3 separate regions of the Homo sapiens genome follow, and all the other regions are linked to region 3. The links come from fine-mapping of genetic effects on gene expression. A gene starts in region 3. Each other region holds a variant in brackets. All regions are shown on one strand. Distances are from middle to middle.

Region 1 (8,186 bases), 150 kb after region 3:
TGATACAATATAGTGGAAAGGTATTCCATGTTCATTGATTGGAAGAATAAATCTTATTAAAATGTTCACACTACCTAAAGCAATCTACAGATTCAATGCAAGCCCTATGAAAATACCAATAACATTCTTCACAGAAATAGAAAAAACAATCCTAAAATTTATATAAAAACACAAAAGACCCAGAGTAGCCTAAGCTGTCCTAAGCAAAAACAACAAAACTGGAGGAATTATATTACCGGACTTCAAACTGTGCTACAAAGCTATAGTAACCCAAACAGCATGGAACTGTCATAAAACAGACACAAAGACCAATAGAACAAAATAGAGAACCCAGAAAAAAATCCATACATCTACAGCAAACTCATTTTTGACAAAGGTTCAAAGAACATACACTGGGGAAAGGACAGTCTCTTCAATAAATGGTGCTAGGAAAACTGAATATCTGTATGCAGAAGAATGAAACTAGACACCTGCTTCTTGTCACATGTAAAAATCAATTAAACATGGATTAAAGACTTAAATCTAAGACCTCAAACTATGAAACTCCTACAAGAAAATATTGGGGAAGCTCTTTAGAACACTGGATTTGGCAAAGGTTTCTTAAGTAATACCCCACAAGTACAGGCAACCAAAGCAAAAATGGACAAGTAGGATCACATCAAGTTAAAAAGATTCTGCACAGCAAAGGAAACAATCAACAAAGAGACAACCCATAGAATGGAAGAAAATATTTGTGAACCATCCATCTGTCAAGGGATTAATAACCAGAATATATAAGGGATTCAATAACCAGAATATATAAGGGATTCAAATAATTCTATATGAAAAAATCAAATAATTTGATTAAAAAGTGAGTAAAAGATTTGAATAGACACTTCTCAAAAAAAGACAAATAGCAAACAGGTGTACTAAAATGTGCTCAACATCACTGCTCATCAGAGAAATGCAAATCAAAACTACAATAAGATATCATTTCACCCTAGTTAAGATGGCTTGTATCCAAAAGATAGGTAATTACAAGTGCTGGTGACGAAGTGGAGAAAAGGGCACCCTTGTACACTGTTGGTGAGAATGTAACTTAGTACAGACACCATGGAGAACTGTTTGAAGGGTCTTCAAAACACTAAAAATAGAGCTGCCATATCACTCAGCAATCTCACTGCCAGCTGTGTATCTAAAAGAGAGGAAATCAGTATATAGAAGAGATATCTGCACTCCCATGTTTACTGCAGTGCTAGTCACAATAGCCAAGATTTGGAAACAACCTAAGTGGCCATTCATAGATGAAGGATAAAGAAAATGTGGTACATACATATAAACAATGATATCCCATCATAACAGCATGGATGGGACAGGAAGTCATTATGTTAAGTGAAATAAACCAGGCACAGAAAGACACACTTCACATGTTCTCACTTATTTGTGGGAGCTAAAAATTTAAACAGTTGAACTCATGGAGATAGAGAGTTGAATGATAGTTACCAGAAGCTAGGAAGGGTAGTGGGAGGGGGTAAGAGGGAAGGGTTCATGGGTACAAAAATACAGTTAGATAGAATGAATATGATCTAGTATTTGATAGTACAATAGGGTGAATATAGTCAAACATAATTTATTGTACATTTAAAAATAACTAAAATAGTATAATTGTATTTTTTTTTTTGAGACAGAGTCTCACTCTGTTGCCAGGCTGGAGTGCAGTGGCACAATCTCAGCTCACTGCAACCTCTGCCTTCCCAGGTTCAAGCAATTATCCTGCCTCAGCCTCCCAAGTAGCTGGAACTATAGGCGCCCATCACCACACCCAGCTAATTTTTGTATTTTTAGTAGAGATGGGGTTTTACCATGTTGACCAGGATGGTCTCAATCTCTTGACCTCGTGATCCGGCCACCTCGGCCTCCCAAAGTGCTGGGATTACAGGCGTGAGCCACCACACCTGGCCTGGATTGTTTGTAACATAAAAAAGGATAAATGTTTGAAGTGATGGATAGCCCATTTACCTTGATGTGATTATTATACATTGCATGCCTGTATCAAAATATCTCATGTGCCCTATAAAAATATAAATCTACTGTATACCCACAAAAATTAAAAATACAAAATTTTTAAAAATTAGATTGTATCCCATAAGTATATACAATTATTATTTGTCAATTTAAAATAAATATATAAACATAAATGGCTCTGTACAGATTTTGGGTCACTTGGGGCCTACTGCACATAACCTTTATGGCAGTGTGTCATTGTTCAAACAAAACGTCAACAAAGAGGACTGGCTTAGAAAGTCAAATTTTTGTAATACAGCATAATCTAAAATCTATGTTCCAAGTTGCCATAAACCCTAAAGCTCAATACCTCACATTTACTTTGCCCTTCACAGTTTACATAGTGCTTTCCCATACACTATTAAATCTTTCAGATACCATTGTACTTTGGACAGATTTCTAGCAGAGCACTTATAAGACTTTATTGCATTTATAATTCTATAATTATAATCTACTAAAAATCCACTGGGAGCAGGAAAGTGCTTATTCATTCTTTGAAACCTCAGAGGACATTGCCTGGTACATAAGATCAGTAAGTCAATCGAGTAATTTTGAACACTACATTCAATATGTTTTGGGAAATACTTCTCCCGAAGATGAAGCCTAATTCCTCTTTTCTTGAGTGTGAGCTGGACTTAGTGACTCACTGCTAATGAATAGAAAATAATCATATGTGACTTCTGAGACTAAGTCATAAAAGGCACTGCAATTTCCTCCTTGCTTCACTCTCTTGGACGGCTTGCTCTGGGGAAAGTCAGCTATCATGTGGTACCACCCAAGCAGCCCTTTGGAGATGTCCTTTTCTCAAGGATCTGAAGCCTCTTGTCAACAGGCATGTGAGTGCTCCATCTTGGAAGCAAAGTTTCCAGCCTCAGTCAAGCTTTTGAATGACTGCAGCCCCATGCAACATCTTGCCTACAGCCAAAAGAGATGTCAAGTCAGAACCACCCAGCTAAGCCATTCTGAATGCCCAACCCACAGAAACTGTGAATTAATACATGTTTGTTCTTTTAAGCCACTAAACTGTGGGATAATTTTCTACACAAGCAATAAATAATCTACCTATGATTATGAGGAATAGCAATAAGAGAAATAAAATAATACTTTTCTTATTAAAGAGAAATAGAAAAATAACAAAAGTAATGCGGTAGCTATTATTTATGGTTTACTACTTAAGGGACTCCACATATGATAGAATTTCATTTGCTCTTCACAAGAATATTAAAAGACACGTGGTAATATTTCCATTTTACATATGCAGAATTGCAGATGTAGATTAAGTCACTTGGCTGAAGTGCTAATAAGTGGCAGTCAAAAAAATTGAAACCCACGTTTCTTTGTTTCCAAGTCCCATGTTCTTAACCACTGTGTACATTATCTCCCAATATATATTTATTAAGAATGAGTGCAAGAACCCAATTCACAATTGCCAAGATTTGGAACCAACCTAAGTGCCCATTGACGAATGAGTAGATAAAGAAAATGTGGTATATATACATAATGGAATACTACTTGGCCATAAGAAGGAATAAAATAATGTCTTTGGCAGCAACTTGGATGAAGCTAGAGGCCATTATTCTGAGAGAAGTAACTCAGGAATGGAAAACCAAATACCATGTGTTCTCACTTATAAGTGGGAGCTAAGCTATGAATATATGGGAAGGCACACAGAGTGATATAATGGACTTTGGAGACTTAGAAGGGGACACTAGTCTGGTGACAATTGCACTAAAGTCTCAGAATTAACCACTATATAATTCATCCATGTAAACAAAAACCACTTGTAGCCCCAAAGCTATTAAAAAATATATTTAAAAATTTTAAAAAGAAAGCAATAGTACGATTAAAAAAAAGAATGAGGGCAAGATATTAACCAAGGCTTCATTATAATTTGTGTGGTCCCTAGACATCTTTGCCTTAATGTATCCCTTCCTTCATTAAGAAATACTGAAAATTATGTTAAACATTAGTATAAGCAAGTATAAGCAAGACTGGATTCATTATAATATATTCATTAGTGTTATATTCATTTTTCCTCTAATTTTAAAAGAAATTAAAATTAAAATATTTCTATGGGTCCCTAAAAGAATTCTGGTTCTAAGTAGTATGACTACTACGCCTGATGGATAACTAGGTCCCAGCATCAAATTGCACACAGAAATCAAACAAGCAATAGCAAAGAAAAGAGAGAGAGATAGGAAAAAAAAAAAAAACCCTTTTAATGTCACATTTTAAAAGCCAAAGAAATAATGTTTCTTCTTTTCTAAACAGTGAAGGGCACAGGGCAGTAGGAAGTAATCGTAACCCATGGGGCTTGCTTTGGGGTGGGGAGCAGATTATAGTGTACATGGGATGCTCAGAGTCTCAGTTTAAGATGTTGAAAGAAAAGACACCAGGGCAGGAATTAAACCTGTCCCCTGAGGGAAGCAGGCAAGGCTTTTGTGCTCAATTGTGTTCAGCTCTCCTGAAAAGGAGAGTTCACCTGAGTAGTTTTGAGATCCTGCTTCGTGGGACCCACCTTGACT[G/C]GGCTGTGACTGCCTCATTCCTCTCAAGCAGAGACACCCATGAGCAGAGGGGCAGGCCTCAGAAGTCAAGTCCCTGGAGATGGCATGGAGTAATGAAAACAGTGATTTCTTTTTTCTTTTTTGAGTCGGAGTCTCGCTCTGTCATCAGGCTGGAATGCAGTGGCACGATCTCGCATCACCGTAACCTCCACCTCCTGGGTTCAAGCAATTCTCCTGCCTCAGCCTCCAGAGTAGCTGGGACTACAGGCATGTGCCACCACACCCAGCTAATTTTTGTATTTTTAGTAGAGATGGGGTTTCACCATGTTGGCCAGGATGGTCTCGATTTCTTGACCTCGTGATCCGCCTGCCTCCGCCTCTCAAAGTGCTGGGATTACAGGCATGAGCCACCGCACCTGGCCAAAAATAGTGATTCTTAGATCTGGTACAACCTTCAGACTCTCTACCCAGGAACTGCGTGGTTTTGGATGAACTAGGTTTGTGGTGCCTTACCATAGTTTTCTCTTGCAGTTTTCTCATCTGTAAAATGAGGGCCTTATGGCAAAGACAGTGCTCACCAGATAGCTACATGCTCCCTTCCAATTCACTGCCAATGGCTGGCCAATGGGCTGCAAATAGTGATGACATGCTTCCAGTTCAGGGTAAGGCAGTAAAAAGCTGGCATATCTCCATACATAGCTCTTCTCCCACAATAAATCTGGAAGGCACATGTGCAAGGCAGCATAGCTAAAAATGATAAATGGCCCAAAATCATGAGAGACTGCCTGGAAGAGAGCTGTGCAGGTATGCAGACCCACATTGAACTTTAAGTCAGAGTGAAATAAACTTCTGGTTTGGGGTTACATGTTACCACAGCATGCCTTAGCTTATCCTGACTAATAGAGACTTAATGCCAACTTTACTGAATTGTGAGAATGAAATGAAAGGGTGAATGTAAAGCATCAGAAATGTGTCTGGAAGAGACAATTCACTCAATAAACATTTTTTTCCCTTCTCAACTTTGAAAAACTGCATTTTGCCCCAAAGGATTAATCATTGCCCAAAAACTACATTCTGATAAGACCCCTGTCTTATAATATGTTAGTGTTGGGACCTAGACACGGAATTCTGAAAAAGATGAAGGTCTTACACAGCCTCATCAACAGAGGCCTTCAGGCTTCACATAGGCTCCTGTTCCCTGCAGAAAACAGTACAGACACTTTGCAGAGCCTAAACACAATACAACTCATTTCGCCTGGAGAGTAGAATGATGCAGGTGGGGGAAAGTAGAGAGGAAGTATTCCTGGCGCGGTGTTTTACACTTTTGTTTAGATGTCTTGTTTCCAGAAGGCTTGCAAACGTGGACTCAGGAACATTACCCAGAAGTTTGAGTGAGGGCTTGCTGTGACCCATAGAAGCAGCATGCTCCTGAACACTACCCCATCTACAATCTCAGCATCCTGTGATTCAAGGCCCTTAGACATGACTTAGAAGAATACTGTATGTTAGAGAAGTTGAGGCCCAAAGTGGGGAAGGGCTTGCCCCAGGTCCTCCTGCCGGGAGTGGCTAAATTTTTAACAGTTCCTCTTCCTCTCAGAGCTCTCTCTATCCACCAATGGACACTCCAGATTGGCCAGCCTCTCATCCAGGCACCTCTTCCCTGTGTCACCTGCCTGAATGGGAACTGTCAAAAATGAACACTAAAATCAGGCTTGGCAAGGTTTTCCGGCATCCATTTCACCGTGATTTCTCTAAGTGCGCATTGGATTGACGTAGCTATTAAAAGTCAGCCCTAGCTCGGCAATCAGACAGAAAAGCTATAATCACCCCAGGCATTTCCAAGGGACCTTTCAAAGAACATCATTAATTCTGAATAAAACTCTCCCTCACCAACACTTCCAGTTATAGTCTTGACATTCCTATTTTATGCTGCAAAATTCCTCTGCCATTTAATGTAGAAGAAAAAAGGCCTACTTTAAAAATCACATGTATTTGTCCTGTATTCTAAGTATCTGAGTTAATTTTCCAAAATTAAAACAAAACTAGCAACAAAAAACTTTCCTTGTCTCTTTTTGCTCTCATATGCACCTCTTCCCTCACCCATGTATTGTATTTGCAAAGGGCAATAAATCCTGTTAATCTATAGGACCGGGAGCATGTTACTTGAAACACCTGATACCCTCAAAAGAGAAAGTTGAGGCTTCCAGAGTGAGAAGGATGCTGAGCACCTATTAGATCCTGGCCAAAAGGCAGAAAGCTTCAGACAGAATAATAAATACGGTGAGAGAAGATCTGCCGACTGCAATTTTGCTCATCTCATTACATTTCCAGCATTATCTTCCTCCTCCTTATGGACTGCCAGGCAATATCCTGTTGAACCCCTTCTTTCTCCAGCCAGTCTGCCACCCAGTGTGTGCCAGCCACTATGCCAGGTGCTTTACATTCTTCATCTCACGTAATCCTCACCAAGAGCCCTATCAATTACGAATGAACATGTTTAAAGATGAAGAAATGAGACCCACAGATATTAAGCAACTGTCCTAATGTCCCAAGCTGGGATTTGAATCCATGGTTCTCTTTCCTAAATCACTAGAGGATAGCTCCGGGGTTGAGATAAGGAAAGCAAAGTGACACCAATTATTATATTTTAAAATCCTCACTATTCCCCTTGGCAGGGTGCTGGCTAATGGAGTTGGGGAATAGTCTCTGAACTGCAGAGGATAGACTGGGGTACGGTGGAGACAGAAAATAAGGCGTGATTGGTCACAGGAATTTCTGAAAGACGAATTCCCAGTCCACTGCATCCCCTCTAGGTCTAGTTGGGACAAGGAAGCCGGCGGCTCCAGGACTCACATGGACAGGGGCCCTTGAGGGGGAAAACAACAGATAGTGCAGGTAACAAGATGTGCCCTCATCGCTACTGAGACGGGCTGAACCTACAAGCCCCTCCGGCCATATCGTGCGTCGTGGGTCGGTGTCAGATCTGCCTCCCTAACGTGCAGATTGTGAAACCCTTTCCTCTGCGCGCACCAAGTACGCAGCTGGCGAACCCCTCACTTGCGTGCCAGGTGAGCCGGTGACAAGCCCCTCGGTGCCCGCTTCAGAAGAACTGATGGCAAACTTGTCCTCGTGCGCCCCAGGTGATCTCTGGGCGCGCGCTCCATTAGTACAAGCTTCCGCCCACTCTCCCATTCGCGAAGCTGCCTCCTTCTCTAGCAACCGCTTCCCCATAGCAACGTTCCTCAGCCCACCCCTCACCTGCATGGTGGCCGGCAACGGCAGCACAGCTCTCCGGCGGCGGCCGAAACGAAACTTGGCCGCCTCGTAGATCTTCCGGTAGACAAACGGCACCACGCCAAGCGGCAGGTGGAAGGCGCCGCGGGTGGAGAAGGCGGCATAGGAGGGTTCCCGGCTCACCTGGCAGCGCTGGAGCCGAGCGTCGCACACCTCGCCCCGGCCAAAGAGCAGCGGCGCGAGGGCGATGAGCGCCGACGGCACCCGGGCGAGCGCGATCATGAGCAACGAGGCGCGGCTGCGGGTGCGCAGCGTGTGCTGCAGGTGCCGTGTGATGGCCCCGTCGCGGCCCAGGGCGATGGCCGCCACGTTCCCGAGGCCGGCGGGGCAGCACAGCCGTGGAAG
Region 2 (8,186 bases), 62 kb before region 3:
TCTTAGCACCCCTTTAAATGGATTCTACTAATCCTTTTCTTATTCTCTCTGTACAATCCACTTTTACACACTAGATATTCGCATCTTGTTAATGCTTGCCATCCCTTTCTTAGGCTGAAGAGGGTATAATGGAGTGGTTAAGAGTCAGACAGACCTGGGTTTTAATTCCTGCTCTCCCTTAATATCTGTTTAATCTTGAGAACATTATTTTACATCTTTGAACTTCAATTAATTTTATGTGATAATTGGAGATTATGAGGGGATTAAATGACAGTGGTATTGAGGAAATATAAATACATAGTAGGCACTCATTAAATGGTAGCTCTTACCAATATTCATCTCTTATCTTTTTAATTGACAACTGCAATAGTCTCCTCCATTCCGTGCTTCAGTTCCACCTAAAACATACCAAACACCCTGGCAGGTGATTTTGTAATGTCGTTTTCTTTGTGAGTTGTTGCATATGTTTCTGCCTGGTTTTTGGTTTTTTGTTTGTGTTTTAGACGGAGTCTCGCTCTGTCACCAGGCTGGAGTGCAGTGGTGCAATCTTGGCTCACTGCAACCTCTGACTCCCTGGTTCAAGCAATTCTCCTGCCTCGGCCTCCCAAGTAGCTAGAACTACAGGCACATGATACCACTCCTAGCTAATTTTTGTATTATTAGTAGAGATGGGATTTCACCATGTTGGCTAGGATGGTCTCGATCTCCTGACCTCATTATCTGCCCGCCTCGGCCTCCCAAAGTGCTGGGATTAAATGCGTGAGCCACTGTGCCTGGCCTTGCCTGGTTTTATCAACAATTTTAGTGAGTTCTACTAGGGTCAGATTCATCCACTCTTTCTTTTCTTTCGTAATCTTTCTAGCCCCTAGCTCAGCTCCGAGCTAAAATGTCTAGAGGTGCATCCTAGATTATATAACTGCCCCCACATTCAACAATTGAGTGTCAGAGCCGAGACTGACTGTTGCCCCAAATTCTCTCTGCAAATAGCTCTAAGACACCTTCCTACAGGGAAGCTAATGTAGAGGAATGTTGCTTGTCTGGAATGATTGCAGTGCTTGCAGGTGTATAATTAGTCACTAGTCAGTGTATAAATATGCTGTAAATTGCTTTATTTGTTAATGTGAAAAGCTCTGCAGAAATACAAGGTATTATAGGAACCAAGGCTGAACATGGGAGATAAGGTATTGTGGGAGAAGAACAAGTGAGTGAGGCATCAGTGTGTGTCATATGTCCCTCTGCTGGGATGAAGCTTATAGGTTCTCCCCGCCTCGTTTTCTAAGAACACCGACTCCCCTGGGTGAATAATTTAAAGGACAAATTACCACTCTTCTGGGTACCAAAGCCAGCCATAAGCTGAAATTAAATTAAATCATAAAGCCCTACAAGAAACTGAAGGAAGAGTCAGAAATGTAAAACCAAGGGAATCGAGAGCTAAGGATGAAATATGAGAGTCAGTGCGATGTCCTTGCCTTCCTGTGCTGATGAAGTAAAAAACTGAAAACCACCCTGGTACAGACCTAAAGGACCACGATCAAATATCCATTGTTAAGTACTTGGCAGTGGCTATTGCAATGATTTCAATTCCGATGGGGTATTGGAGGGAGGTAGGAGAGAGAACATTAGATCAACTTCAAGTCCTTGTACTTCAGCTAACTAGCTAGGTGACCTTGAGCCAGTTAGTACCCAATCTGGACCTTTGTTTCCTTCATCTCTCGGTTGAAATAAATGTAATCAGAGTTTGTGTTTCCATTTTTTTCCCCATATCAGCTCAGCGATCATAGTGAGCTAATAAAAACGCATATACAATTTGCCAATTAAAAATATAGAAAGCTCATTATCTCTTCTCAGAGCACAAGCCCTATTACCATAATGAAAAGTTCCCCTGTACTCCTTAGTAAGAGACCAGGAGATAGAAGGGCAACTGTGGAAATGGAAGACCATAACGTTTTGTTCTAAAACACTGTGTCCTCATAGTTTCCTCCAGAGGGAAACGAGTATATACCTGGTGGCTTAGAGGGGCGGGAATACCCTGTGTCCAGGAGGCAAGCAGTACTTTGAATGCCCAAGATTGGCTTCTGAGAAAGAAACTTGGCATGCTTATACTGCAAATCTAATGATCTAGTCACTCTACATCAATGGAATGAGAGAGAATTATGAAATCGTTTATTTAATCTCTACAAAGCAAGGACTTTGGTAAACAGTTTAGCAGCTGATCTGCTGCCAACGTGGAATGTAGGTTGGAAACCAAGTAAAAGTTGAAAACGGAGCAGATGTTGTTTTCTAGGATGCTATATCACCGAAAGGCCTGAAACACATCCTAGGTCTGGCATATTAAGCTTGACTCTATCAACATCACAGCTAAGCCTGACCAGCATTTACTACCATGACAGTATCACAAGAACAGCAAAACAAAATTCTAAAATTAAATGGTTCTTTCTCTTGCTAGAAAGCTGTGCTTGACTTCTTGGTGTACATGGATAAAGGCTACAATGAAGGAAACATTTTAGAAATACTCGCCTACCTGGTAGTCCACAGATCTTTAGATTTCATTGGCCAGCAAAATCTCAAAGGAAGAGAAAGAGAGAACAAGAGAGACCATCATATGGAAGACAAATTTGATGCCATCACTTCAAAATGAAAACATCTGGCTCACGCCTGTACTCCTAGCACTTCGGGAGGCCGAGGCAGGCAGATCACTTGAGGTCAGAGTTCAAAGCATCCTGACCAACATGGTGAAACCCCATCTTTACTAAAAATACAAAAATTAGCTGGGCATGGTGGCAGGCGCCTGTAATCCCAGCTACTTGGGAGGCTGAGGCAGGAGAATTGCTTGAATCCGGGAGGCGGAGGTTGCACTTTCACTCTACTGTCCTCCAGCCTGGGCGACAGAGAGACACCGTCTAAAAAAATAATAAGAAGAAAACAACTATTATCTACTACCACTATCATTTATAAAAGGATGTTTTAACACTAAAACAAGGAAGGACACTGTCTCAGAATAAGGGGTAGTCCTTTAATTGCTTTGATTTAGTTATTGGACATACTGACTACATTGCCCTTTAGTTTTGTTAGTAGTCATGGAGCAGTGAAAACTTCATCCTCAAGCAGAATAGTTCATCTGTGTGCATTTGGAAAGCCCTGCTCTTTGGAAGATCCTCTTAAATCTGGAAAGCCCCCTTCTCCAAAAATCCCAGTCTTAAATTCCCTCAGGGCCCAACTTTGAACCTCATTTTTACTTTGAAGGTTTTCTTGGTTACCTATTGACCACAAGGATCTTTCTACTTTCTGAATTCCTGCAGCACCTGTAATTTTAATACATAATCTAGCATTTTTATTTCGTGGGAAAGGTTTTTGAAATGTAGAATATTTTGGAGATAACGTTTAATTTTTAAGTAAACATTTAAAAGCTTTATTACCAACTGATAGAGCCACAAGTTAGACATTTCTTTAAAAAAATTCTAATTTAAGAAGGAAAAAAAGTATAGAATTTTAGAACAGAGATGAATCTTCCATTACCCAAATTCATCCGAAGTTGGCTGAGGTCTTTTATGGTTGACAGTATAGAATCCAATATATTTTGATTGGTAGACTAGACTTACATTAAGAAAGGATCATTAGCCTTTGGATTTTAATGTTGTCTCTTCTCTCCATCTAGATAAGTAAGCATCAGAACAACTCGTCTACTTCCTGTTTCAAATGCTCCGATATTCTCATATAGCTAGAATAACAGAATCCTATGTAACAGAAATTGATCTTAGAGATTATCTAGTCTATATCCTTAACAGATGGAATATCTGTAGCCCAGGTATAGTGAAGTGACTTGCCCCAAATCCCAAATCGATCAGAATTAGAGTTGGGATTTCTAATCTCTGAGCTTGCAGGTATTTTAAGTATACTAGTCTTATATCTCCGTATCTCTAGATATACAGTACATTGCACACCATGGTCCCTAAACAAGATTAAAAAGACAAGTTTTCCCCATCCCCTAGGCTATCCTTTTCACTCTTGTTTATTTCTTCTTTCCTTCCTTGGCACCTATTACCTCTGACCTCTCCCCACCCCACCCTACTTCCAAACCCATTAAAATCTAGGTTCTTAGGAAAGG[C/G]TATGAGAAACTCATCTACACAGCGTGAATTCCTCATAATTGTTCATGGAGTGTTTGCTGTGTGCCAGACATTTTTCTGGGTTGGCTGAATGTGGGACTTCTCCTAGAGTACTAGCAATTTTACAAGGTAGGAAGAAATAAGCCAACAAAGTGAATCTTCATTCAAGGCACAAGGGAGACTTCTTATTTCTTTGAAATTACCACATATCAGCAATGATTTTACTTCTAAAATCAGCCAAATTCTTCAGAGTTGGAAGCCTGCCCTCCTTTTGTCCCTCCACTACAATTACCACAAGACTTAGATATTTAGAAATATTTACAAATTCATATTGACAACGTAACAGACCCTTTTTCATTTTCCTAATTGGGAACTAGTCTTTTCTCCCTTAACAAAAACCAAAGTGTTAACACTTAAATGCAGGTTTGACATATTTTAAATATTTTTAGATGTTATTCTCAAAACCATGTAGACCCAATCCTAGAAATGAGGGCTCCTATCTCTGGAACAAATTTACTACATCATCTTCTCCAATTCTCTAAACTTGTCTGGCCACAAGTTTTCACATTTGTGAAACAGAAAAATTGTTCTTAATGGAGACTGAGGTATTGGAGGGTTGGGACCACACCTTTTAATCTTCTGTATGTTACCACACAGAGCCTCGTCTCGGGCTCTGCCCATGCAGATGCTCAGGAAATGCTTGCTAACTGAAGATTTTTATGATCACTGATAGAAAGACAGCATAAATGCAAAACACGATTTTTCCCTTGCCCCAAGTTACCCAGGAGCATCATTCTCATTCAGAGATGACCACATTTCAGAAAGTGGGTCTCATAAAACATACAATTTAATGAAGCCATCTGGGAAGATGATCATCATATAAATGCAAGATATTGATATTATCTGGCTACTTGGGGAAACACCGTCTAAATGAAGGCGCAACTCAGCTCCATAATTCAAATCTAGTATTGATGTACAAGGTCTTTGGATAATGGACTTTGCAGATTGACATTTCTCACAGATCTGAGGCTACTTTTCTCCCCTCCTTTGCAATTTTACTATATTTGCAGTAAGATTTTATTTTACTTTTTGGAAACATCTTTTTTTTCAGTAGGAATCTATCAGTGTCAACTGGGAGTCTTGAAACAGAGATTTTACATCTGTCTTTATTGATGTTTTTAAGCTTCTCTTTTTTTGAAGCAAGAAGTGTTGCAAATAACTAACATAGGCATTTCTTTGCTGCTCCAGTAATTATATGGGATGTTGTTCAGTTATTCAGCTTCCCAATTGATTCAGCTGCTTTCTTTTCTTTCATATTCTAGCAAGAAGGCGTGCTCTACTTCTGATATTATCTGGAAGACTGTTCTAAATGAAGCCACCGGGTAATCTGTTCTCCTCTCTTAACAAATGTTACCTCCTTTCTCTGAGAGATAATTGCTAAAACAATACCAAGTTCAGGCATGCCAGCAGTCACACAATGATAACAGCCAGCAGGCTTTGGCACTGTATCTTTTATGTAGTCTGAGAAAGGGATGGAGAATTCCCTCTACAATTAGGACTCTGTCTCACTATCTCCACTGAAGAAATTACCATTGGCATTGAGGCAACAGCTGCCCCCACTGTGTAAACCAAAGTTCTTCTGGGGTCCTCACAGTCTCTCCAGGAAATAATGGGATCCAGTATTTGTGCTTGCCTCTCCTGAAACACTGAGCCTATTTGGCCCTGGCTATCCCCAACCACCCCCTCACCACACACTCACCAAATAATATGTGAGCACAGTCCATCACCACACTCTTCCTAGAGGTTGGTGGAGCTCATGGACATTGTCTGAGCATGTGTGTCATGGGTTTGCTCACCCCAGGAGCCACACATGGTGTTCAAACATGGTGTCCCTTTAGAGAATATGTATGGCAGGGCTTAGAGGTGCAGAGGCAGAGGGATTGTTTCACATGCTGTGTCTGGCTGATGACTGAGGTGGGTGGGATACATAGGGAGCTGGCAATATATTCTTGATCTTTAATTCTTTTCATACTCACTAGAGAAATTCCTTTTCCCACTGCTTATCTTCTTGCATCCCTAAATCACAGGCTAGAGGTAAGTGTGTCCAGAGCTGAGGGACAAGACACTTGCATGCTTTATATCCCAAGGGAGAGTTTGCATGCTCAAAAGCAGGGTAAGAAGAAATTCCTGGCCCTCTTTCTCCTTGGCCTCAGCCAGGTACTGTCACTGCTCATCCCTGATGGGAAAGGAATATTCAGAATTTCAGTCTAATAAGGCTGTTGAGAGGTCTAGAGTCTTAGAAGTCACATTAGCAAGTACATTCAGTGAGCGCCGTGGGCCAGATATGGTGCTAGGTACAGAGCAGTGACATCACCAAGATGGTTCAGTAGGAGATATTAGCCTTCCTCTCCCCACACACAAAAAACAAATGCAGGTGACCATTGCACAATGCAGGGTTAAGGGCACCAGCTCCCCGCATAGTCAAAAATCCATGCATAACTTTTGATTCTCTCAAAACTTAACTACTATTACAATAGCTTACTGTTGACCAGAAGCCTTACTTATAACATTAAACAGTTGTTTAGCACATATTTTATATATGTATTATATATTTTATTCTTACAATAAAGTAAACTAGAGAAAAAAATGATATTAATTGCAAAGAAGAGAAAATATATTTACTATTCATTAAGTGGAAGTGGATCATTATAAAGGACTTCATCCTCCTCATCCTACATTGTTGAGGCTGAGGAAGAGGAGAAAGAAAAGGGGTTGGTCTTACTGTGTCAGGAGTGTCAGAGGGAGAGGAAAATTTGCATATAAGTGGACCGGCATAGTTCAAACCTGTGTCATTCCAGGGTCAACTGTGTAGAGGGCTCAAGGGCCTATTAAAAAATCTGCAGCTATGCAGGGGAGTAAAAAATGGCAAATATCTACACAGTAAGGTGCTACATATGGGTTATAGTAAGGAAAGAAATCCAGTTTGTGCCTTCGAAGAGTTCTCAGCCTGGTAGGGGACTCATAGCAGATTTTGTATATACATCTGTTAATATTCTCAGCGTTAATCTTAATTTTAAGAGTCTCCAAAGTTTTTCATGTTGCAAAACATGAAACTAAAATTGCAAAGGTAGTGACAAAAATAGTCTAAATACTCCTAGGGATTGGAACTCTAACATAGAAATAGCAAGTAGAGAGATAATTCCATCCAAATAGCTGACTGTATCATATCAACGACTAAGATGTTGAGAAAAACAGATTTGCGGCAAATAAAAGACATATATACTAGGGAAAACCTTTCCATTTCTCATGAAACATTAGATAATTATGGAAACCCAACATTATTTATTTAATTATTTATTTTTTGAGATGGAGTTTCGCTCTGTCGCCCAAGCTGTTGTGCAATGGTGTGATCTCAGCTCACTGCAACCTCCGCCTCCTGGGTTCAAGTGCTTCTCTTGCCTCAGTCTCCCGAGTAGCTGAGATTACAGGCATGTGCCACCACGCCTGGCTAATTTTTGTATTTTTGGTAGAGACAGGGTTTCGCCATGTTGGTCAGGCTGATCATGAACTCCTGACCTCCAGTGATCTACCCGCCTCAGCCTCTCAAAGTGCTGGGATTACAGGTGTGAGCCATCACACCTGGCCCAAACATTTATTTTTAAAAGGTATCTTTATATATAGAGATTGGTCATTCAGATAACCACTTTTTTTTAGCTGATTTCTATTCAGAGCTAGGTTGCCACAGTAGGAAGGCAAAGAAATCTAAGACAATCTTTTCCTTGGGTCACAATATTAGTGAGAAGATGAAGTTTTTGCATGTGGAAAAATTAAAGAGATATTGATTCACACTGTAAAATGCTTTTAAAATCTTTTGCCTGATATCTAAAGATTCTTTTGAGGAAAAAGATGTACAACCATAACCAAGAAGTTAAAAATTGGACTTAGGGACTTTTTGTAGTTAATTGGGGGACAGAGGGATACACATAGTGACAAAAGACATAGCTGATGAAGTGCTATCTTACAAACATAAAGGAAAATCGTTTCTAACCATTTTTTCCCCAAGTGATTTTCTGCAAGCATCAA
Region 3 (8,169 bases):
TGTGTTGTATATAAAACAATATGTTCCAAGGCAAAAAATTCAATATTCATGCCTCTCCCTAGCCCAATTAAATCAGGATTGCTAAGGGTGGAATCCAGGTGATTCCAATGTGCAGCCAAGTTTGAGAGCTACTGACATAGAAGAAACTCAGCAATATTTGTTGGATGGATGGATGGATGGATGGATGGTTGGATGGGTGAGCAAAAGAACATGGGGAATGAGAAATTTGGGGCTCTGGTTCTAGCACTCCCTCTAATGTGCTGTGTGACCTCGCTGTGTCACTCTACTTTACTGAACACCCATTGTTGCACTACATGTAGAAGGAATGAGAGAAGCCTGAAGACAGAATAATTAAAGCTTTATAGAAAACTTCCGGCTGGGAGCGGTGGCTCACGCCTGGAATCCTAGCACTTTGGAAGGCCGAGGTGGGCGGATCACGAGGTCAGGAGATCGAGACCATCCTGGCTAACACAGTGAAACCCCGCCTCTAGTAGAAATACAAAAAATTAGCCGGGCGTGGTGGCGGGCGCCTGTAGTCCCAGCTACTCGGGAGGCTGAGGCAGGAGAATGGCGTGAACCCGGGAGGCGGAGCTTGCAGTGAGCCGAGATCGCACCACTGCACTCCAGCCTGGGTGACAGAGCGAGACTCCGTCTCAAAAAAAAAAAAAAAGAAAAAAAAGAAAGAAAACTTCCTCCAGAACAAAGCTAAGCCTAACAGGAAGCTCTTTACTATGTGTATTAGGCCATTCTCCCATTGCTATAAAGAAATACCTGAGACTGGGTAATTTATAAAGAAGAGGTTTAATTAACTCACAGTTCTACAGGCTTTACAGAAAGCATGGCGCCGGCATCTGCTTGGCTTCTGGGGAGGCTTTAGGAAGATTACAATCATGGTGGAAGGTGAAAGGAGAGCAGGCATGTCACATGGTGAAAGCAAGAGCTAGAGAGGATAAGTGCCACACTTTTAAACAGCCAGATCTCGTGATGAGTGACTCAGTGTCAGGAAGACAGCACCAAGAGGATGTTGCTAAACCATTCACAAAAAATCCACCCCAACGAGCCAATCACCTCCCACCAGGCCCCACCTCCAACACTGGCTATTACATTTTGACATGAGATCTGGGTGGGACAAATATCCAAACTATATCACTATGGTACCTCTTTACCCACGAACTGGAAAGTATTTGTGAGGCTCCAAAGAGGAACATCACACAACTCTGTACTCAGTGTACAGAAGAGAGACAGAATGACTGATTTCTAGTCCTCAGATATCACACTTGGGAGACACAATTTGTGAGGGTGCCTGGAGTGAAGGGAAAGGGAGAGAGATGGATTGATCTGAGAGATTCCTCACAAGCCTCCTTGTCTGCATTGGCTGTTAAAGGTCTTCTTCAAGACTGTGAAGGGTTTCTGCTCTCAAATATGGGCTGCTTAAACTTTCTTTTTCTTTTTTAAGAGACAGTGTCTTGCTATATTGCCCAGGCTTAAGTGCAGTGGCTATTCATGGTCATGATCCCACTACTGATCAGCACAGAAGTTTTAACCTGCTCTGTTTCTGACCTGGGCCAGTTCACCACTCCTTAGGCAACCTTGCTCCCTGGAGGTCACTGTATTGATACCAAACTTAGTGCAGATCTCTGATTGGCATAGCTTACTAAAGCCCAGAACTCCTGGGCTCAAGCGATTTTCCTGCCTCAGCCTCCCGAGTTGCTGGGACATAAGCAGGTGCCACCTAGCCCTGTTCAAACTTTCTTGACGATATTATGGCTGTTTTGCTGAGATTTTTTTTTTTAAGCATGCCCCATGCCCCTCAACTCTGTTACTGTCACTCTACACCTGTTGTAACATAGGACAGTTTCTTTTTTTTTTTTTAGACAGAGTTTCACTCTTGTTGCCCAGGCTGGAGTGCAGTGGCACAATCTCAGCTCACCGCAACCTCCGCCTTCCCAGTTCAAGTGATTCTCCTGCCTCAGCCTACCAAGTAGCTGGGATTACAGGCATGCGCTGCCACGCCCGGCTAATTTTGTATTTTTAGTAGAGACGGCATTTCTCCATGTTGGTCAGGCTGGTCTCGAACTCCCAATCTCAGGTGATCCACCCGCCTCGGCCTCTCAAAGTGCTGGGATTACAGACATGAGCCACCGCGCTCGGGAAGGACAGTTTCTTACTGAGGAAGTTAGCTACTCATGCTTATTTAAAACATTGCAAAAGCATTATAACAGGGAACTCAGGGTGTGGCCTGAGTCCTGTTATTCTCCAGGCTGCTATTATATACAGCTGTTTAGGCTTGCCTGCTATGTGAGATCTTACTACCTGTTCCTAGGCATCAGTACCTGTCTGGTCACTCAACAGTGGCCACAAATTATTATCACTCTCCATTCCCCATCAACCTATACCATTTCAGTGAATGACAGTTTTAAAACTACAAAAACAACACATTTGGGAAGTTATGAGAGTAGAAATTGAAGTTTATTGGCTTCACAAAGGATAAGAGCAAGATATACCACACAGGAGGGTTCCCATCTCAATACCTTAACTTGCATATTCAGATTATTCAAATTATTGGGGACCAGGGTTTGGGGATCGTGCACAGCTTTGAGTAATATTTGCTAGTTATATTTAAGAACAAAATGGCATCCTTAGGGCAGTTCCAACTATTTGTGAGCTCTGGCTCCAGACAAACCTCTGTCTGTCAGGATGAACTCCAGGAGGAGTACAAAAGGTGCAAAAATAAAATAAAATAGAAAACATCATATATATATACACGTATATATATACACACATATATACACGTATATATATATACACACATATATATATATACACGTATATATATATAGTTTTTAGACAGGGTCTTGCTCTGTCACCCAAGCAGGAGTGCAGTGGTGTTATCATAGCTCACTGCAACCTCAACCTTCCTGGCTCAAGCAATTCTCCCACCTCAGCCTACCGGCTAGCTGGGACCACTGGCACCGGGCTAATTTTCTTATTTTTTGTAGAGATGGAGGTCTCACTATGTTGCCCAGGTTGGTCTCCAACTCCTAGGTTCAAGTGATACTCCCGCCTCGACCCCCAAAGTGCTGGGATTACAGGCATGTGCCACCGCGCCTGCCTACTCTTTTAAAGACGCTAGGGATGCAAAGAAGAGACGAAAGCAAACACGAAACCTTTTTGATCTCAAGGAACTAAAGGTCTGAGTCTGACACTTCCCATCCCACACACATATACAGAGGGAAGGATCTCTTCTCCAGCAAAAGTTTTCACGAAAGTCATCTCTTTCCTCATTGCTTAAAAGAAACAAAAAGCCAAGAAGCCGTTATGGAGCGGGTGTGGGGGCCTGTGACCTTTTGTCTAGTTGCCATCCTCCGGGACCAACAAGGGGTACATCAAATAAGGGACGCGGCGGCTCAAATGACATGAACATAGGAGTCCGCATTCTCTGAGATGTCATTCCTCCAGGAAGACCCAGGAACCGTGAATAGGGCGGGGTGGTGGGCAATATCTGAAGCGAGGTTTCCTGGGAACGCGATGCCACTGGCCAGGACGCTGGAGAGGGCAGCGGGCTTGAAGAATCCCTTCTCAAGGGGTCCGTTCCTGGGTCGTATATGGAGAAGTCTGTCCAAGCGTGTGTCTGTAAGGTCTAGAGCCGGGCGTGCATTCAGAATCCTCAAGCTCATCTGTACTTGGACTCTGACCCTGAAGCGAGGCGGTTTCCGAAGTCTGATTCACCGAGGGGACAGGACCTATTTGGGGCATCCGATGGCAGCGAGAAGAGAAGGGAGCCGAAATGCAAAATATTCTCAAGATGCAGGAGGAACCCCTCTCAAAGAGCGCCACGGAGAAAACTTCAGAGTACGGGCGCGATGATCCAGCACAACGCCAGGACCTGCAGCCCAGCCCACCTCTCCCCGGGCTGCTGTGGCGCAGGCGCAGTGGCGCCGCGCTCCGGCCCCAGCGCGCATGCTCTGCCCGGCTGCGGCGCTTCGGGCAGGCGGCGGCGGCGGCGGCGGCGGCGGCAGAGGGAGTTTCCGCTTTGTACTCCACCCCGGTAGCAGCTCCGCGGCAGGGACAGCTTCCTCCGGACGCTTGGCGGGCTTCGCTCTCGCCTTACGACAGCCCGGTCGGATCATGGGGTTGCCCAGGGGGCCGGAGGGCCAGGGTCTCCCGGAGGTAAGAACGCCTCCTCCTTCCCTGACACGTCGGGGTTCCTGAAGAGAGGGCCGAGCCGCGGGGCGGCGGGCTGAGCGGGCCCTGGGTGCGTTAGGGGCGCCCCGCCCCCTTCCTCAGGCGTATCCACCTCAGGGAAGCGCCGACCCTCTTCTTGGAGGCGGGGAGCAGGTACCCCTGCATGGGCAGGGGGCGGCGGGCGGGTGAGGACAAACTTAAGCCGCTCCCGGGTCTCTTGGGGCGCAGGTGGCCTTCCTAGCCCGACACCTGCTCTGACGCAGCCCCACGCGCCGCGGGGTCCTGGGCTCCCACCTTTCTCCCTGTCCGGGACGGGCTCCCCCACCCCGCGCCGCAGGGCTAGCCCCGAGGGCCGAGGCTGCTGGGCGCTGGAGTCACGAGACCGCTCTCCGAGGCGGTTCGGGCTCGGGTGGTGACCTTGGGACGTCTACCGCCACCCCGCAGAGTCCCGGCGGCCCGCCCCACCCGCCTTGCTGTCGGGAGGGAATGCCACCCTCCTTGCGTGGACCCGGGCCGGGGCGGCGGGAGGAAGTTTGGGAGACTTGCGCGCACCAGGGAGGTGTCCCGCTGGGTCAGCGCGCCGGGGCGTTCGGGGTGGGACGCACTCCAGGGGTGCTGTGTGGCGGGGGACCCGGCTCTGGGCGGAAAGGCTGCGGCTTCTCCAGAAGAGGGCGGGGTTCTTTTCCAAAGGTGTTTGTTAAGTACTCACTTAGTGCTAGGGAGGGGGTCATGAGTGGTTTGCGGATTTCCACGTTTGCTGGGAATACAGGGAAAGTGTATTCATTTTCTTTTGGCTGCAAATACCACTTAGCATCTCATAGGTAGTTTGCATCTGTCGTCCCTTTCAGTTGATTTTACTCAAAGGCTAGTCTAGTTTACTGGATTCTGGAGAGAAATGGAAGCCACGCCGCACCTCTGCCTTTTTCCTAAGGTTCTGGAGCAGGCATTGGGCAGGGTGACTGCTTGCTTGACGTGGTGAGTCGTCCCTTCACACTTACCTGCCAGTGACCAATGTTACTCCTCTGCATTCCTCCCAAATCCTCAGTTCTTTCATATCACAAGTATCCACTAATTGAGGGATCACTGTGTTCTGTGTCCAGAAGCTGGGAATATATATAGTCTGAAAGGACAGATTTGTTTGTCAGTGTGTGCTCCCCGAATGCAAGTCCATTTTGTTGTCTTAAGAAAACCTGACAAGCATAATGTTGTCAGAACCCCTGTATTAGGTAAAATCTTACATGCACGTTGCCTGGGATGGGACCCAGGATAGTGAACAATAGGATTTGTACTGTGACATTTGAAGTTTTCTTTTTTGCCACTTCTGTATTCTAGGCTCTCATCAAGTTTTTGCCTGGCCTTTTGCTGTAGACTTCTGTCTGGTCTCCCACGTTCTACTTTAAATCCGTCCAACCCAATATTCCACAGTACTATCAGTGGAGGTCTTTCTGGGGGGAAAATAAATAAATTAATTAATGAAGAGCAACCTGCTGCTGTATGTCCTTCGTTTAAACTTTCACTGACTGCTAAGAGGCCACACTCACCAGGTCAAGCAATAACTTATCATCATTTAGTTCAGAAGCTAGTAAATATAAATATGGATAGTCTGTGTTATTAGGATGTCACTAGACCAGTTAATTCATTAAATTCATTCTTTTTTTTTTTTTTGAGACAGAGTCTCACTCTGTCACCGAGGCTGGAGTGCAATGGCGTGAGCTCGGTTCATTGCAACCTCTGCCTCCCAGGTTCAAGCAATTCTTATGCCTCAGGCTTCCCAGTAGCTGGGATTGCAGATGTGAGCCACTGCCCTGCCCGAATTCATTCTTTTTAACCCTTTACAAAGATAGCTAGACTTGGCCTGCCTTCCAGCTTACAACAACTATAGTGGACGGAAATTGAAAGTTTATTGGGCTTTGTGTAAGAGCTCATTGTTGTTTGTCTTTGTCAGAAATTTAGCTTCAACAACTGGATGTATTAACCAGCCTGGTGGATTTTTATTGCTTCAAGAGAGGGTCTTTCATTCCCAGCAGATCAGACAGTGGCCCTTTTCCATTTGATTTCAGTGTTAATCTGCTAAGTGAATTTGGAGTCATACATTCCCATTTAGTGTCTTGTGCCAAAATTACTTCACAAGTTATATTGCAAAAGTAAACTTCTCCATGCTAGGGGTGAGTGGATGGAAGCCTGGGCCCTGCATCTGTGGTGGGGTGGCCAGTGGGTGTCCATTAGATAGGTGTTGAGGCAGTGATGATCCTATTTTTTTTTGGTTTTTTTTGTCTTCTTCTCATGTTTTCATAATAAATGATTGAACAAATGAAGTGTTCCTGTTTTACACCCCAGAAGTTTTAAGAAAGTACTTATATTATCTCATTTTCTTTTTCTGCTGACTTGAACTACAACTACTCTTTAGCTTCTCTTTTCTTAGAGTGTTTTCACTTGTAGACGTTTCTCAACCATCCCAGATTTTTTGCAGAAGGGAGAGAAGGTGTGAATTATTTATATTACTTAAGAAAATTTTTATGTCCACTAGGAACTAGTGAATGCTGATCTTCAGGATCCTTAATGGACTGGACCAGGGTCATTTCAGAGACGGATGTAGCTCAGTGCTGTCACCTCCCCCACGCCACTCCTACTCTATTGCAGGGGATTATCAGTCACTTTAATAATTCTGTATTAACTATATTTTAATATGTATACTCCCTTTCCTGGCAGTTTATACATCAAAATAAACTTTCCATTGTCAGGGATGTGATCACTGAAACATTTTATTAATACATGACTGGTTTAGGTTCACTTACTTTATGTAAGCATTAGTAGATCATTCTTTATTTAATAAGTGTGTCCTTGGAGCTTAATGTTGTTTGGATTCAGAGGAGTAAACCCAAGTATATAATATATAGTCCTCTCGTTAATCAATCAGTAGTCCAGTTGCAAAGACAAGCATGTGTATAACACTAGATATCTCACTTTGAAGAGGTTGATACTTAGTTATATGTACAGTATATAGTTGATACTTAGTTATATGTACAGAAATGCTGAGGAGAGTGGCCATTTCAGGATAGACTTGTGAGGGATGGTGTTGCATGGGAGCTGGAATTTGAAAGTGATTTCTCAGTGGTTAGAGAATATAGCCATGGCCTTGTCTTGATTGTTTTTGGGGTAGTTAAAGGATGAACCTGAAAAGATAGTTTGGTGGCCAAAGATCTGAATGTGAAACCAGACATCTGGAGTTTATCTTACAGGCAGTGTGTGTGGTGCATTGTTGATAAGGGCTGGGAGGGTGAGCTAAAGAGGGATAACATGAAAGCTGTGATTTAGGAAGGGATGAGCAAAACAAATTAAAGGAAGAAAGATGAAGAAGCATTTGCAAGAGTTCTGGAATGAAGTATGAATGAAAGGGAAGGGAAGATAAATGTGAGATGCATAGTAAAGGAAGACTTAACAGGCATTGTTGGGTAAGGGAGGACTCAGAGATGATTATGAGCATGTGAACCAGGATATCTTATTGGTGTTTTATATAGAGAGATGGTTTTTTATTTTTGGTAGCAAAGGAAGAGAGGAAAGGTAGTTCATGATAGTAAATAGATGAAAGAGTATTAGAATATTTAGATGGATTTAAGTATTAGATAAAGATTGGGGTAAAAGGAGGATATAAATTAAAAATTTTAAATCAAAATGCTGAGATACGGCCAGGCGCGATGGCTCATGCCTGTAATCCCAGCACTTTGGGAGGCTGAGGCGGGTGGATCATGAGGTCAGGAGATCGAAACTATCCTGGCTAACACGGTGAAACCCCATCTCTACTAAAAATACAAAAACAAACAAACAAACAAAAAAACGGGCGTGGTGGCATGTGCCTGTAGTCCCAGCAACTCGGGAAGCTGAGGCAGGAGAATCGCTTGAACCTAGGAGGTGGAGGTTCTCTCTGGGATCCGAGTACAGTGAGCCGAGATTGCGCCACCGTGCTCCAGCCAGGGTGACAGAGCG

Which allele goes with the higher level. Alleles are on the strand shown, and positions count from the first base shown. SD is a standard deviation of normalised expression in the study named. Not every link is listed here.
In carriers of allele G in region 1, the expression in tibial nerve of the gene that starts at base 4,054 in region 3 tends to be lower than with C alone (small effect, 0.14 SD a copy in GTEx).

Evidence for each region. PIP is the estimated chance that this variant, and not a neighbour inherited with it, causes the effect.
Region 1: its variant is the best candidate, but not a certain one, in a credible set for the expression of CCDC93 in tibial nerve (GTEx, PIP 0.60).
Region 2: its variant is the best candidate, but not a certain one, in a credible set for the expression of CCDC93 in whole blood (TOPMed, PIP 0.65).

What each region holds. Positions count from the first base shown.
Region 1 is chr2:117,859,864-117,868,049 of GRCh38, reverse strand. It overlaps the pseudogene HTR5BP. Among named protein-coding and RNA genes, the nearest start is that of DDX18, 49 kb to the right of the region's middle. The variant G/C (reference allele first, on the strand shown) is at 4,569.
Region 2 is chr2:118,071,793-118,079,978 of GRCh38, reverse strand. All of the region lies in intron 1 of LOC107985940 (a long non-coding RNA gene), which reads left to right. Among named protein-coding and RNA genes, the nearest start is that of INSIG2, 13 kb to the left of the region's middle. The variant C/G (reference allele first, on the strand shown) is at 4,106.
Region 3 is chr2:118,009,955-118,018,123 of GRCh38, reverse strand. CCDC93 (CCC complex scaffolding subunit CCDC93) reads left to right here and starts at 4,054. Exons shown (of 24, transcript NM_019044.5): 1 at 4,054-4,170. The coding sequence starts at 4,129. It also overlaps the pseudogene RN7SL111P. RefSeq lists silencers at 3,847-4,046, 4,517-4,566.